Linked DNA regions of Homo sapiens: regions 2 and 3 are each reported to be linked to region 1. The links are microRNA targets in miRTarBase. Many come from high-throughput screens and were not tested one by one. Region 1 holds a microRNA gene; each other region holds the end of a gene's coding sequence. Distances are from middle to middle.
Evidence for each region. The annotated mature microRNA hsa-miR-4720-5p reads CCUGGCAUAUUUGGUAUAACUU and lies in region 1 at 1,523-1,544, opposite strand. An mRNA with a match to its seed (bases 2 to 7 or 8) in the 3' UTR can be bound and repressed. Matches are read on the target gene's strand: a 7mer-m8 pairs with bases 2 to 8, a 7mer-A1 pairs with bases 2 to 7 and ends in A, and an 8mer does both.

Region 2: the mRNA of ZNRF2 is a reported target of hsa-miR-4720-5p. The part of its 3' UTR that is shown has no 7-base or 8-base seed match.
Region 3: miRTarBase lists GINS3 as a target of hsa-miR-4720-5p. Seed matches in the 3' UTR shown: 7mer-m8 at 2,782-2,788.

Annotation. Positions count from the first base shown.
Region 1 is chr16:81,382,207-81,386,564 of GRCh38, reverse strand. It overlaps MIR4720 (microRNA 4720), which reads right to left and starts at 1,547; the gene lies at 1,472-1,547. GAN (gigaxonin) reads right to left here. Exons shown (of 11, transcript NM_022041.4): 11 at 1-4,358.
Region 2 is chr7:30,361,542-30,365,899 of GRCh38, reverse strand. ZNRF2 (zinc and ring finger 2) reads right to left here. Exons shown (of 5, transcript NM_147128.4): 4 at 3,444-3,523. The coding sequence ends at 3,466. Among named protein-coding and RNA genes, the nearest start is that of LINC01176, 27 kb to the left of the region's middle.
Region 3 is chr16:58,403,991-58,407,990 of GRCh38, reverse strand. GINS3 (GINS complex subunit 3) reads right to left here. Exons shown (of 3, transcript NM_022770.4): 3 at 1,844-3,492. The coding sequence ends at 3,262. Among named protein-coding and RNA genes, the nearest start is that of GINS3, 14 kb to the right of the region's middle.

The sequences.
Region 1 (4,358 bases):
AGTCTCATAACCTAACCAGGAAAAGAAGTGTATGATACCATAGAAGGATTAAGTAGTTCACTGTTTGTACCACTTTGTTAAATAACCTTCTTTATGCAAAGGTACAAAAGTTCCACACACACAGACACATGCACAAACACACATGCACGTACACACAAGTACTTGTAACACATATTTGTTTGTTTTTAAGTTTCATGTAACATCCAAGTTAAGAAAGCACAGTTAGGTCTACTGGTCTAAAACAGAGATCTAGGAATTATCTCGTTTCTTTGACCAATACAGATTACTACCTTTGCTATTTCAATGAAAAAAAAGGAAAATTCAACTTTAGTAAAGAGTTTTAAGTATTATTAGAGAATTTCACTGGGCAAATTCTAAACAGAGGGTTATTTATAACAAACTCTAAGTATTCTAAACACATATTTTGGGCTGTTTCAGCTATCTAGAATTGTGTTGAATTTAAATACTAGAGATGTAGATGGAGAGAGGTGATATGGGTCTAGAAAGCAAATCATTTTCTGGCTGGATGCTCACACCTGTAATCCCAGCACTTTGGGAGGTTGAGGCAGGCGGATTGCCTGAGCTCAGGAGCTCGAGACCAGCCTGGGCAATATGGTGAAACCACACCTGTTCTAAAAATACAAAAAATTAGCTGGGCATACTGGTGTGCACTTGTAGTCCCAGCTACTTGGCAGGCCGAGGCAGGAGGATCCCTTGAGCCTGGGAGATGGCGCCACTGCACTCCAGCCTGGGTGACGGAGCGAGACTCCATCTCAAAAAAAAAAAAAAAAAAAAGTATTTTATGAACACCAACTTCTAATACATTTACTTGTATATCATGTGGCAGCAGACGTGAGAATGTGGAAAGCTATAAGGCCTGGGACACTCAGTGCAGGCAGCCTTGGCCTCATCCACAGGGCCTCCCACCACCCCATGTTGAGAGGTGACATAATCATGGTGGCAGCAACAGTGGTCACTGCACACAAGGCACTCTCCCAGCTGCTTACAGTCATCACCCAGTTAATCCTCACAACAACCCGCAGAGGTGAGTCCTCCTGCTATTCTTCTTCCACATAAGAAACGGAGCCTTGGGAGCCTTAAGAGCTTCCCAAGTCACAGAGTAGTAAGTGTGGCAGAAGCCCCCAAGCCCAGATGCACCTGCCACCAAGGCCTATGCTCTCAACCACTGGGTTTGTAAGGAAAGTATATAAAGATGATTGCCTGAAAATAATTAAAATAACAAAGTTTGGGGTTTAAGTTAAAGGAATAAGCCTTTGTTCTCATGGAAATCACTTCCAGGAAATGTCTCATGTCCTGAGCTAAGTCAGTCTCATGTCCTGAGCTAAGTCAACAGGGTGCTAACAGATTGTCATTGGAGGAGAAGCTTTGTCATTCTACTATTGAAAGCAAGCCCTTTACTCTGAAAAGCACAAGCATAAAAATTAAATCTTATTAATACACAACGACAGTTAAACTTGGCTATACTTGGTACAACTTAAGCACCAGATTTTACCTGGTGCTTAAGTTATACCAAATATGCCAGGCTTTTAGAAATGGGCATAACTCTTTTGGCCACGGCATCACTGAACTCCTCCATTTAAGTAGAATGTGTACAACTGTGCCCTGAAACTGGGCCATTATTACAAGATCTCCCGAGAGGAAGAGTCTTGCCTACAACTGGTGAGCCTCCTCATCTTCTTCCTCCTGACTTGGTGACCAGGCAAGCTGACAGACACTAGGGAGGATGGAGGCGACCACGTGTGGAGTGCAGAAGGCGCATACCGGAGGAAGGTGAGGGATGTTCCACAGATACATGGAACAAATCACATCATTCATGATTTTCAGTATCATCCAACTCTATATAGTTCTGCCAACCTCAACTCTGCACTGAGGAAACACTTTAAGTGAGGAGGATCTTAGCAATGAGTAGATTTTCATCAAAATTAAAGATTTCTGGGAAACAATAGCACCTTATAAGAAATGAAAAAAATAGTATCCTCAAGCACCCAAATCCCAAATACTGGGTCAGATGACAGATAGACACATTTTCTTGTCTGATGCTAACAAGAATGGAAATCGAGCCCCCTGTTTTACACAGCAGTGGCGTTTAAATAGACTACTTTTCTGCATTATGAAAACAGCCTTTTAAAGACTCTTTAAAGTTCAAGTTGAGTTTCAAGTAATCAGTTTGCAGCAACTCTAGGAGAATTATTATTCCTCCTGGTTGTAAGTGCTTTTTTTTCTTTTCTTTTTTTTTTTTTTTTAAGTAGTAAAATGGAAAACAGGCCTTAGAGAATTGTATTCCTCAAGGCCTCTGACTGCCTGCTTCCAAGCTTTTGTTAAAGAACAGAATGTGTTGAATTCTTCTCAATTGGCAGGGGATCAAGCACAATACTACATAATGAGGTAGCTGAGAACAGAGTTTTTCCTATAAACACAAAGAACAACTGAATAAGTGCATGTAATTCTCATCCAATTAAACAGGAAACATGATAAAGCAAGTTAGTACAGTTGTATTTAAACCAAGTTGACTGGTATAACTTGAAAAAATTTAACCCAAGTTTCTAAGGTATGCCTTATTCATAACTGATGAGTAAAAACAATAAAAATAAGGTACCCAAACCTATTACTTGTAATGAAATGCTAAAAATAAGATCCTAATAAATATAATTCACCAACCAGAAGACAGATGAACCTCCGTTTGGGATGTGAATGATTTGAAATGGCCGTTCATTTACGTGGATCCTATTCAGTGTCTACTCGTTCACTTCATCTTAAGGCCGTGTGTCCCCCGGACTCTGTGTGTTGCCATCCTTTTCCACCTGTTCCTTCTCTAATTCATATCACGACTGTACAATTTCTGGTTTTCTTTCAATGTGTGCACAGAAGGAAGCTCAACAACTTTGTTGAGCCAGGAAGAAATTATTATCAACATTTATAATCAGGCCAAATTTCAGCTGAGTAGTGACTTTAAAAGAATTAGTTTTAATCTCAAAATAAAAAAAAAAAAAGAGGGCAGGCGAGGTGGCTCACACCTGTAATCCAGCACTTTGGGAGGCTGAGGCGGGCGGATCACGAAGTTTAGGAGATCGAGACCATGCTGGCTAACATGGTGAAACCCCGTCTCTACTAAAAACACAAAAAATTCGCCGAGTGTGGTAATAAGCACCTGTAATCCCAGGTACTGGGGAGGCTGAGGCAGGATGATTGCTTGAACCCAGGAGGCGGAGATTGCAGTGAGCCGAGATCGCACCACTGCACTCCAGCCTAGGCGACAGAGCGAGACTCCGTCTCAAAAAAAAAAAAAAAAAAAAAAAAAAAAGAGAGGGCAACAGTCATTTCTGACTAAATAATTATATAATGTAGTTTTATTTATTTGATGTTTAATTTCATGAAAAGGGGAAGGGGTTTAAAAATCCAATCACTTAGAGAATTTCAATGACAGAACTGAAAAAGAACAAACTTTCTACGGAGCGTGGTGGCTCATGCCTGTAGTCCCAGCTGGGTCTCCACATCTGAGGCCAGGAGTTTAAGATCAGCCTGGGCAACAGAGCAAAACCCAGTTTCTAAAAGAAATTTAAAAAAATAAAATAAAATAAAAAAGAATAAACTTTCCTAAACTGTATACATTAGACCAAACCATCTGGAAGTATGATTTAATTCCTCAGATGTCACATAAATGGAACTATTACAATGAGACAATATTGAAATATGTTTAAAATGGAAATAATAATAGGGTTCCTTCTGAAAAACACAAAACTTTACCAAGTTTTACCAGCTAACTTGCAAAAAATATAGAAAATGCCTAGCAGTCAATACCACTGAGACTTAACTGCCAGCAGGCATGACAGACACTCAATCCAAGTCTGTGTTATCAAATATGGGCAAATGGGCCCCTTCTCATCCTTATACTATGAATTTCTGTAATTTCTCAAAACTACAGACAGAGTAAAGAGTATTTCAAGAATTATTAAAAGCTATCAAAATACTTTCCTCAACATTCTAAGACATAGTTTATTTTCCCTTACTAATTACATGGAATAAGAGAGGGAAGTATACATGAAGCTCTTTGAAATAAAAAAACAGTTTCTCTTTCAAAGAAACTTTCTTCTGTTCTTACGACCTTAGTAAATAAATTCTTAACCTTCCTATAGCTAACTAACAAAGAAAATCAAAGATCTTTCAGCTTATGCCTGTGCAACTAGCAAAGGACATGTTTGGGAGCGTAAATTGTATTAATACTAAAAATGATTATTCTATTACTAAAAATACTTGTATGCCTAGAAAAATCAAGTTCCAGCCTCACTGGCTGACTGGTGAGCTGATAATCCAAAGACCTGGCTTCTGCTTTTGGTTCT
Region 2 (4,358 bases), not on the chromosome of region 1:
GTTTAGTCACAAAAAATACATAACAAAGTCATCCCCCTTTCACAATAAGGACTACACGCAAGTAAAGAATGCACACACACGGAGATTTAAAATATTTCTCCCAAATAACTAAAAACCCCAAAATAAGTACAGCAATTTTCTAACTAATCAAGACCACAAATATTCATGTCTCTCTATTTTGGGTTGATTATTAAATTCTTATGCTGAAGGATATCAGAAACGTTGAGCTTTATGGCTACACAGTGCCTTACAAAATGTTTTAACAACACTGAATCCTCCTCAAACCCATATACCTTTAATCTAGGACTATTAAAAGGTATACAAGAATTTATCACTTGATAAATAAGAACAGTCAGGACAGAAGCAAAAATGTACAAGTCAAGATATTCCATGTCTATAAACTCTTAAAAATGACTCTTCAAGACCCACAGAAGCAGACTCCATTGGTTCAGATTTCTGTAGACACCTGATTAACAGAGTTCACCCTGCCCATGTAGTAGGCTAGTTTCAAATTCAGGTTCTATATTCGAAAACAAACAAATAAGCAAATATAACACTCATATGTAACATAAGAAAATGGAAATGTTGTTGAAGACCAACAGACATATGCATTTCAGCTATGAGATGAGATGTATGCTCCACATATCCCATAAGCTCACTGTGACACTAAAGGAAAAATTTAGCTGATGAAAGAAAAAAAATTTATACAATATAATTCCACCTCACCAAAAAAAAAAAAAAAAAAAAAAAAAGCTTATCAGCTCTATGGTCTAAATGTTTGTGTACTCCCAAAATTGCTATGTTAAAACCTAATCTGCAGTGCTATAGTATTAAGAGGTGGGGCCTTTGGGACATGATTAGGTGATGAGGGCTCTGACCACATGAATGCAGTTAGTATCCTTATAGAAGCTTGAGGGAGTCTGTTATCCCACCACGTGAGGACACACAGAAGGTGCCATAAATGAGCAATGAGCCCTCATCAGACACCAGATCTACTGGCTGGAACCTTGATCTTAGACTTCCCAGCTTCCAGAACTGTGAGCACTAAATTTCTGTCATGTATAAATTACTCATCTAAGGTATTTTGTTATAGCAGCCCAAAATGCACTAAGAAAGACTAAAAAGACAAATTTTATCTATAGATGAAGGATTTAGATGTATTACTTTGGCATGTAAAATACTAAGACAAAAATTTCATTTTGTTAGCATCAGTTTCAGTACTTCCCTTAAAATGCTTCTATAATTTTAGCCACAGTTTCGTTTTGTCTCAAACATAAGGTGACAATGAAGGCATTCCAAACCTTTTCTATGGTGAAATAAAAACATATGTGCACATATATTCAAAATACCACTCCACCACTATACTTCTCTTACCTAGCATTCTTACTTCCATTCACATTTTATTTATTTATTTATTTAGACAGGGACTTGCTAAGTCACCCAGGCAGGAGTGCACTGGTGTGTTCATAGCTCACTGCAGCCTCAAACTCCTTATCTCAAGCAATTAGTGTTCAGCCTCAATTCATATTTTAAATGTGTCAAGGCATGATCTAAGTAAGTTCACAGGAAAGGTTAAAATTGGCAGTCTTTTAGTACTCTGCAGTCTACCAAGGCTTCCACATTTCACATGCACATGCGTAGTCTTATGACACTCAACTGCAGTTCTCATTTCAGGTGCTATTGCTGCTATTATCTCAAATCTTCTCTGTCAATATTCTAATCTGCTACTCTTAAATCATCTTCCACCAATACAGCAACAGAATTCCTTGAGGGTGTTTATTACCTCAACACTTTTATTCTCAAATTTAAGAGAAGTTATTGAAATAAAAGGAAATGGTACCACACAGGACTAGACCTCTGGACGTCATCTGGTCTAGTTCCTTGCCATCAGTCTCAGCCTCCTAGAAAAGCCGGCTGTTACTGTCTTGAGTCCCTGAACAAAGAGACTCTCACTCCTGAAACAATTCTAGGATTAGCTAAAATGCTCTGCCTTGATATAACAATCCAATGCTTTATATCATCTCTCCAAGTCTTTTCATAAAAGCTTTTCATATATTTGAAGATAGCAATTAAGTTAACCTTTATTTTTTCAAAGCTAAATGATGTCAATTTAATGCACTTGTGAAATGTGAAAAAAAAAAGCCCTATGAAAATACCCAATTGAGGTCAGCATTCAATTCACTAAACATTTTCAGATAATGCAGAACCATGAAAAACTTAAATCAGTAGAACAAAACTAGTTTTTTTTTCAGTCGTAAAATGCAACTTTATTTTTTGCCTACTATATAGACAGGCACTGTATTACATGCTAAAGATATAAAAGTGAATGATTAAATTGAATGAATAAATTTATGATGCGACTGTTTGAAGAAAATGTTCCTACCTAAAAAGAGCAAAATTGCTAAGAACAGTCTTTGGAACCAGAATACCTGGGTTCAAATTTCATCCCCACCAACAAACTAGTTATCTGAACTTGAAAAGTCAAGTTTCTTAACCTCTCTATACTTAATTTCTTCATCTGCGTAATAGGAACAGTAATGGTACTGAGCTCAAAACGGTTATTGTAACAATTAGACAAGTTACTAATAGATGTAAAATGCTTACAACAACACCTGGCACATGATAATACTAAATGATTAGAATTATTATTTTTTGGTTTGGTTGTTTTTGAGACAGTCTTGCTCTGTCACCCAGGCTGGAGTGCAGTGGCATGATCTCGGCTCACTGCAACCTCCACTTCCTGGGTTCAAGTGATTCTCTTTTGTTTTTTGTTTTTTTTGAGAAGGAGACTCGCTCTGTCGCCCAGGCTAGAGTGCAGTGGCACGATCTCAGCTCACCGCCAACTCCACCTCCTGGGTTCACACCATTCTCCTGCCTCAGCCTCCCAAGCAGCTGGGACTACAGGCACCCGCCACCAGGCCTGGCTAATTTTTTTTTGTATTTTCAGTAGAGACGGGGTTTCACCGTGTTAGCCAGGGATGGTCTCAATCTCCTGACCTCGTGACCCGCCCGCCTCGGCTTCCCAAAGTGCTGGGATTACAGGTGTGAGCCACCATGCCCAGCCTCAAGTGATTCTTGTACCTCAGCCTCCCGAGTAGCTCGGATTACAGGTGTGCACCACCAAGCCTGGCTAATTTTTGTATTTTTAGTAGAGACAGAGTTTCACCATGTTGGCCAGGCTGGTCTTGAACTTTTGGCCTCAAGTGATCCACCTGCCTGAGGCCTCCCAAAGTGCTGGGATTACAGGCGCGAGCCAGCATACCCAGCCAACAATTAGAATTATACAATATTTTTAATGTAAGTTTTCTATGCAGTAGCCTAAGTGTCTGAAACATACACATACACACTCATGCACCTCAATGAGTAAATGAATAAATAAAAATTATAGTTTAGAATGTATAATTTGGGCTAACGCTTTAAAAAGTAATTACAAAAAAAATTACCTATAAAACAGGAAGCTGACGCTTAATCTGAAGGGTGCTCAGGGCAAGATCTATTTACTTCAAACCATTCATCTATGCAGCTAGAAAGGAACAAAACCAGAAAAATTGAGATACTTATACTAATTATTTATATAATGAGAGCCACAGTAAAAATACTTGACTTTAATATATTTTTTACAGAAAAAAATGAGCATTTTAAATTATATTTGGCATACATAAGCAACAGATAAGAATGTTTATTATATTTTGATTCTAAGCGATTAAGAAAAAAACCTTTGCAAAATTATGCTATAAAGTACTTTAAAGTTCAAACAGAACTACTTCCAAAAGATAATCTGAACTACCACTTTACCAATATTCAAAACTGAATAACAAATTTGCATAATTTTTCTTTTCAAAACAGTTATTCATTTATGCACATTATCAACCTGTTCATGTCACCTATAAATGTATTAAAAAACGGCTTTTAAATTTTAATCCTTGCCAATATTTCATTTTTAAAGCTATATTTATATGTGATTATTGAATATTTAAATCCTATCCCACCATGTAATACATATACATACACAAATAAATATACATTAATCATTTGTATTTAGGAAGTATTTTATGATCTTATTTTATTAGAAGCTAAATATTAGGGTGCATATGATCATCGTCATTGTGGATCTGCACTGTCCAACAGAGTAGACAAGAGCCACACACTGGTTATTTAAGATTTATTGAAATAAAATAAAAAAATCCAGTTCCTCAGTCACACTAGCCACATTTCAAGCACTCAACAGCAACATGGCTCACGACTACTCTAGGGGACAGCATAGATATAGAACATTTCCATTATGGTAGAAAGTTCTATTTCACAGTACCATGATAGGTGAAAAAATCAAGGTCTACTAACTAGCTATTACTTGCCTA
Region 3 (4,000 bases), 23 Mb from region 1:
CTCCATCTCAAAAAAAAAAAAAAAAAGCTCTCTTGGGGTTTCTTGAAGGATGGGAGGGGGACAGAACAGACAGACACAGAGTGGAACTGACTGCTGTTTGAACTTGAGTCACTCAGTGCTTCTGCATGCCGGTTTCACTAGTTCAGGCACAGTATTCCAGAAACCTCGGGTTCAGAGGTGCTGAGAGGTTAGTGAGAAGCTCTGTAAGATGCTCAGAATTCTTAGGGAGAAGGTGGACTTTTTATTTAAAATAAGAAACAAATTATTTCTGCCATGCAAGCAATAAAGAAATTCAACATCAGATTAGCAGGGTAAAGATGACTTTTTTTTTTTTTTTTTGAGACAGAGTCTTGCTCTGTCACCAAGGCTGGAGTGCAGAGGTGTGATCTCAGCTCACTGCAACCTCTGTCCCCTGGGTTCAAGTGATTTCCTGCCTCAGCCTCCCGAGTAGCTGGGATTACAGGCGCCCACCATCATGCCTGGTTAATTTTTGTATTTCCAGTAGAGACAGGTTTCACTGTTGGCCCTTCTGGTCTCAAACTTCTGACCTCAAGTTATCCACCTGCCTCGACCTCCCGAAGTGCTGGGATTACAGGCATGAGCCACCGCACCGGGCCCAAAGATTAGTTTTTAACAAAGTGTGCTGGGATAACTGACTATCCTTTTTCTCTGAGATGGGAGGGTCTTGAGCAGAGAATCGACAAGATTGGATATACTTCTTAACAAGAGCACTCTGGCTGCTATGGTGAGAAGAGTCTGAAGATGGAGTGGAGGGTGAATGCAGGGAGGCAGTTAGGGGGTGATCCCAAAACTCCAGGAAAGAAACGGTAGGGGCCTGGCCCGAGTGACAGCACCACAGGTGATGGGGAGGTGGCCGGATGCTGCAAATGATTTGACGGCAGACCCAAAAGATATGGAGCGTGAGAGGAGGAAGGTCAGGGGGGGACATAGCGTTTTTGTTCTAAGCAATAGGGAAGGATGGAGTTGTAAAAAATGGAGATGGGAAACATCAGAGGAGGAGCAGGCCGTGGAGACGTAGAAACATCAAGCAGGGGATTGGATACAAGTCTGGAGTTGGAGGGAGCGATCTGAGCTGGAGATAGGAATTTGGGAGCCATCTGCGTGGAGATGGAGAGGCATGGACAGCCCAGAGCCACCCAAATCCAGAGGTCACGAACAGCAGGAGGAATCAACAGTGACAGAGCCTTGCCCCACTGCTCCTGGCAGCCCACACTGTCCCTGGGAAAAACCTATATATACTGAGGTCTTCTGTCTGTAAGGCCACAGTCATGTGGGAACAGAGTGCTTCAGGGGAAAGGGCACAGCTTTACTCCCTGGAGTTTGATAGCAATTTGGTATTTGAGCCCATTTGTTGTGTTTTTTGAAAAATTAACCTCTTGAAGGGACCAAATCAAAATCTAAACGACTAACTGGAGGGCTGCTGGGGAGAGGGGAAGTCCGACAGGCTTGAAGGCAGATCTGTAATTGAAAATGAGTTCAAAAGCTACATGTAATATAATCTGTTCAAAATGTAAAATAGGGGCTAAGTTTTGGACATGAATACCTACATATTCCTGACACATGGCCCCTGAGGAATTTCTTTTTTTTAGGAAGTAGGAAAAAATGGCAGCAGACTTAGAGTTGACTTTAAATATAAAGCTATGTGTGAAAAGAATGATGCCAAAAGTTAAATAATATGCTTTTCTCGCTCTATGAATGGTTTCTCGGGCCCTGGCTATATATAAATGCTGCGGTAGTAATGGAAATCTCATCTTCCTAGGACACAGCACCCTCCTACAGAGAATGTACCTCCTATTTATGTGTACCACACAAGCAAAAGAGCAGCTGCTAAAACATGGATTTGTGTATTACCGTCAAATATGATCAAAGACACAATTCTGATAGCTTTGATTATCTGTAGTACTAGTGAAAGAGCACTTGTACAGAACATATTCATGTACAAAGCCAATCATTTATTTAGCACTAAAATCAAATTATAAAAACAACAATTCCATCTTAAAACAGGCATTTTAAAAGCATTTCTGTGGTTCTAAGTTTGCATCAAGACAGCCTAAGTTTGCATCTGCACAATCTGGATACCCAAATCCCTCTATAATTTCCAAAGACAAAGACAATTTTTGCTAGTTGTGAGGTGTCAGGGGGAAGCAGTGATGCCCTGCAAACAGTCTAATGGGCCCAGGGAACCCTGTTTCTTTCTCAACCTGAGGTTGCATCCTTGATCTCCAGGAAAAGAGATTAGTGCTTGCTTAACCAGGTTCCTAGTAAATGGTCAGGGATCTTCTATGCAATAATGTTGCAAAAGTTACTGAAGAGGAAAAAAAAAGCACAACGGAGGCTTCTTGCCCATTTACACTTGCAATGTTAGATTTTGAAAACAGGGCCCTTCATAGTCAGCACCCAAGTCCTGACTTCCAGATGTAATGCAGGCTGGTTAACAGCCCTTAATAACTACATTGCAATTCCAAACGACTCCCTGACAGCTTTTCTAGACAGGGAGTAGAATTAAGTGTGCGGGTGCTCTTAGGCTCTCCGAGGCAATAACAAGCTCAGTTTAACCATTTCCCTTCTGGGTTGACTGCTGAGTTATGCAGATTCCAGTTCATTAAGCCCTGAGTATAGAGTATGAGGCCAACATCTTTTCTTTAGTAAAAGCCATGCCATTCGTCTGCCTTTCCCTTTTCCTCCTTTATCTGGGCGACTGTTTTTGGAAACTGGGGTAACTCCCTGCAGGCAGGCAGCAGGAGATATCTCCAAGTCAGGCTGGCATGGTGGGGTGCTATCCTCTGTACAACCATGAGGAAGATGAGGCAAATAAGATCAAGAGAGCATTTTGTGAACAGGCGATGACCCAGTTTGTACCTGTGCTTTGTGGCTAGTGAAACTGTACATCTGAAGCTGTCCAAACTCCCAGACACAAGGAATCTCAGTTGCAACTCTACTGTGATATATTATATGGCAGTGATTCTTATTTAGGAAGGACTTTGATTTCTCCTTGGCCATGGGTTCTTGGGTTAAAGGGCCTGGGCTGTGGGTCAGCAGGGTGGGACGGTCCTGGAAGACTCACAGAGCCAGGGACACCCACATCCTCCAGCATGTCCAGTTCCCTATAATTCTCTATGGCCACAGGAAATAAGCCATGAAATGGGACAGGATTCTGGTTCTGTACAAGGTCAACCAGCTCCTATCAAGGACACACGGAGGGATACGTCTGTGAGGAGCCATTCTGTGTTCTTCCGGCTTTCAGTCTTCCATATCAGTGAATTTTCTCTTCTTGTAATTCTGAACGAGGTTGGAAGCTGTGATCTGAGAAGCCTGCCCCTTCTCCCAACACTGAAAGTCATTCAGTCCTTTCTGCCCTGTTTGAAATAAGCCCCTCTCCATCTCGTCTAGCCTGGCTACCAGGGCTGAAGTGTCTTCGTTGTAAGCATTCTGTGAGGAGTCCATGATGCGGCGAAAACGTCCGATAAAAGTCTGGGAAACAAGGGAGTAAGACAAGTCAGGGTTGACCTCACACCCCACAAAGTCATATCCATTTTTATCTCAGAACATTTAAATGGCATGAAAAGAAAGAATGATGTGTAGGACTCAGAAGGAGGTCTGAATTCCCTCTAGCACCCAAGTAAGTTATTGCACATTGCCATGCCTCAATTTCCTCATCTGTGAAGTGGATTGTTATGAAAATCCAGTAAGTTGTTAAGAAAACCAATGAATACATGTAATGCACCTAGCAAATGGCTAGCACACAGCAAGCTCCTTGAGAAGCATCACCTATTATTGTCATTAGTAGCAAATGCTTCTGTCCCAAGAGGAAGAAATGATGGTTTCTTCTAACAGTAACAGAATAAAAAAGTAATTATGAAAAATTAAAATAAGGTTATACCATAAAGGTTGGGAACAGATGTATAACATTGTTTTGTCCTGGAAAAGTAATAACAATATGAGTTATTGTTTATTACACGGCATTACATAGTTTTACCAC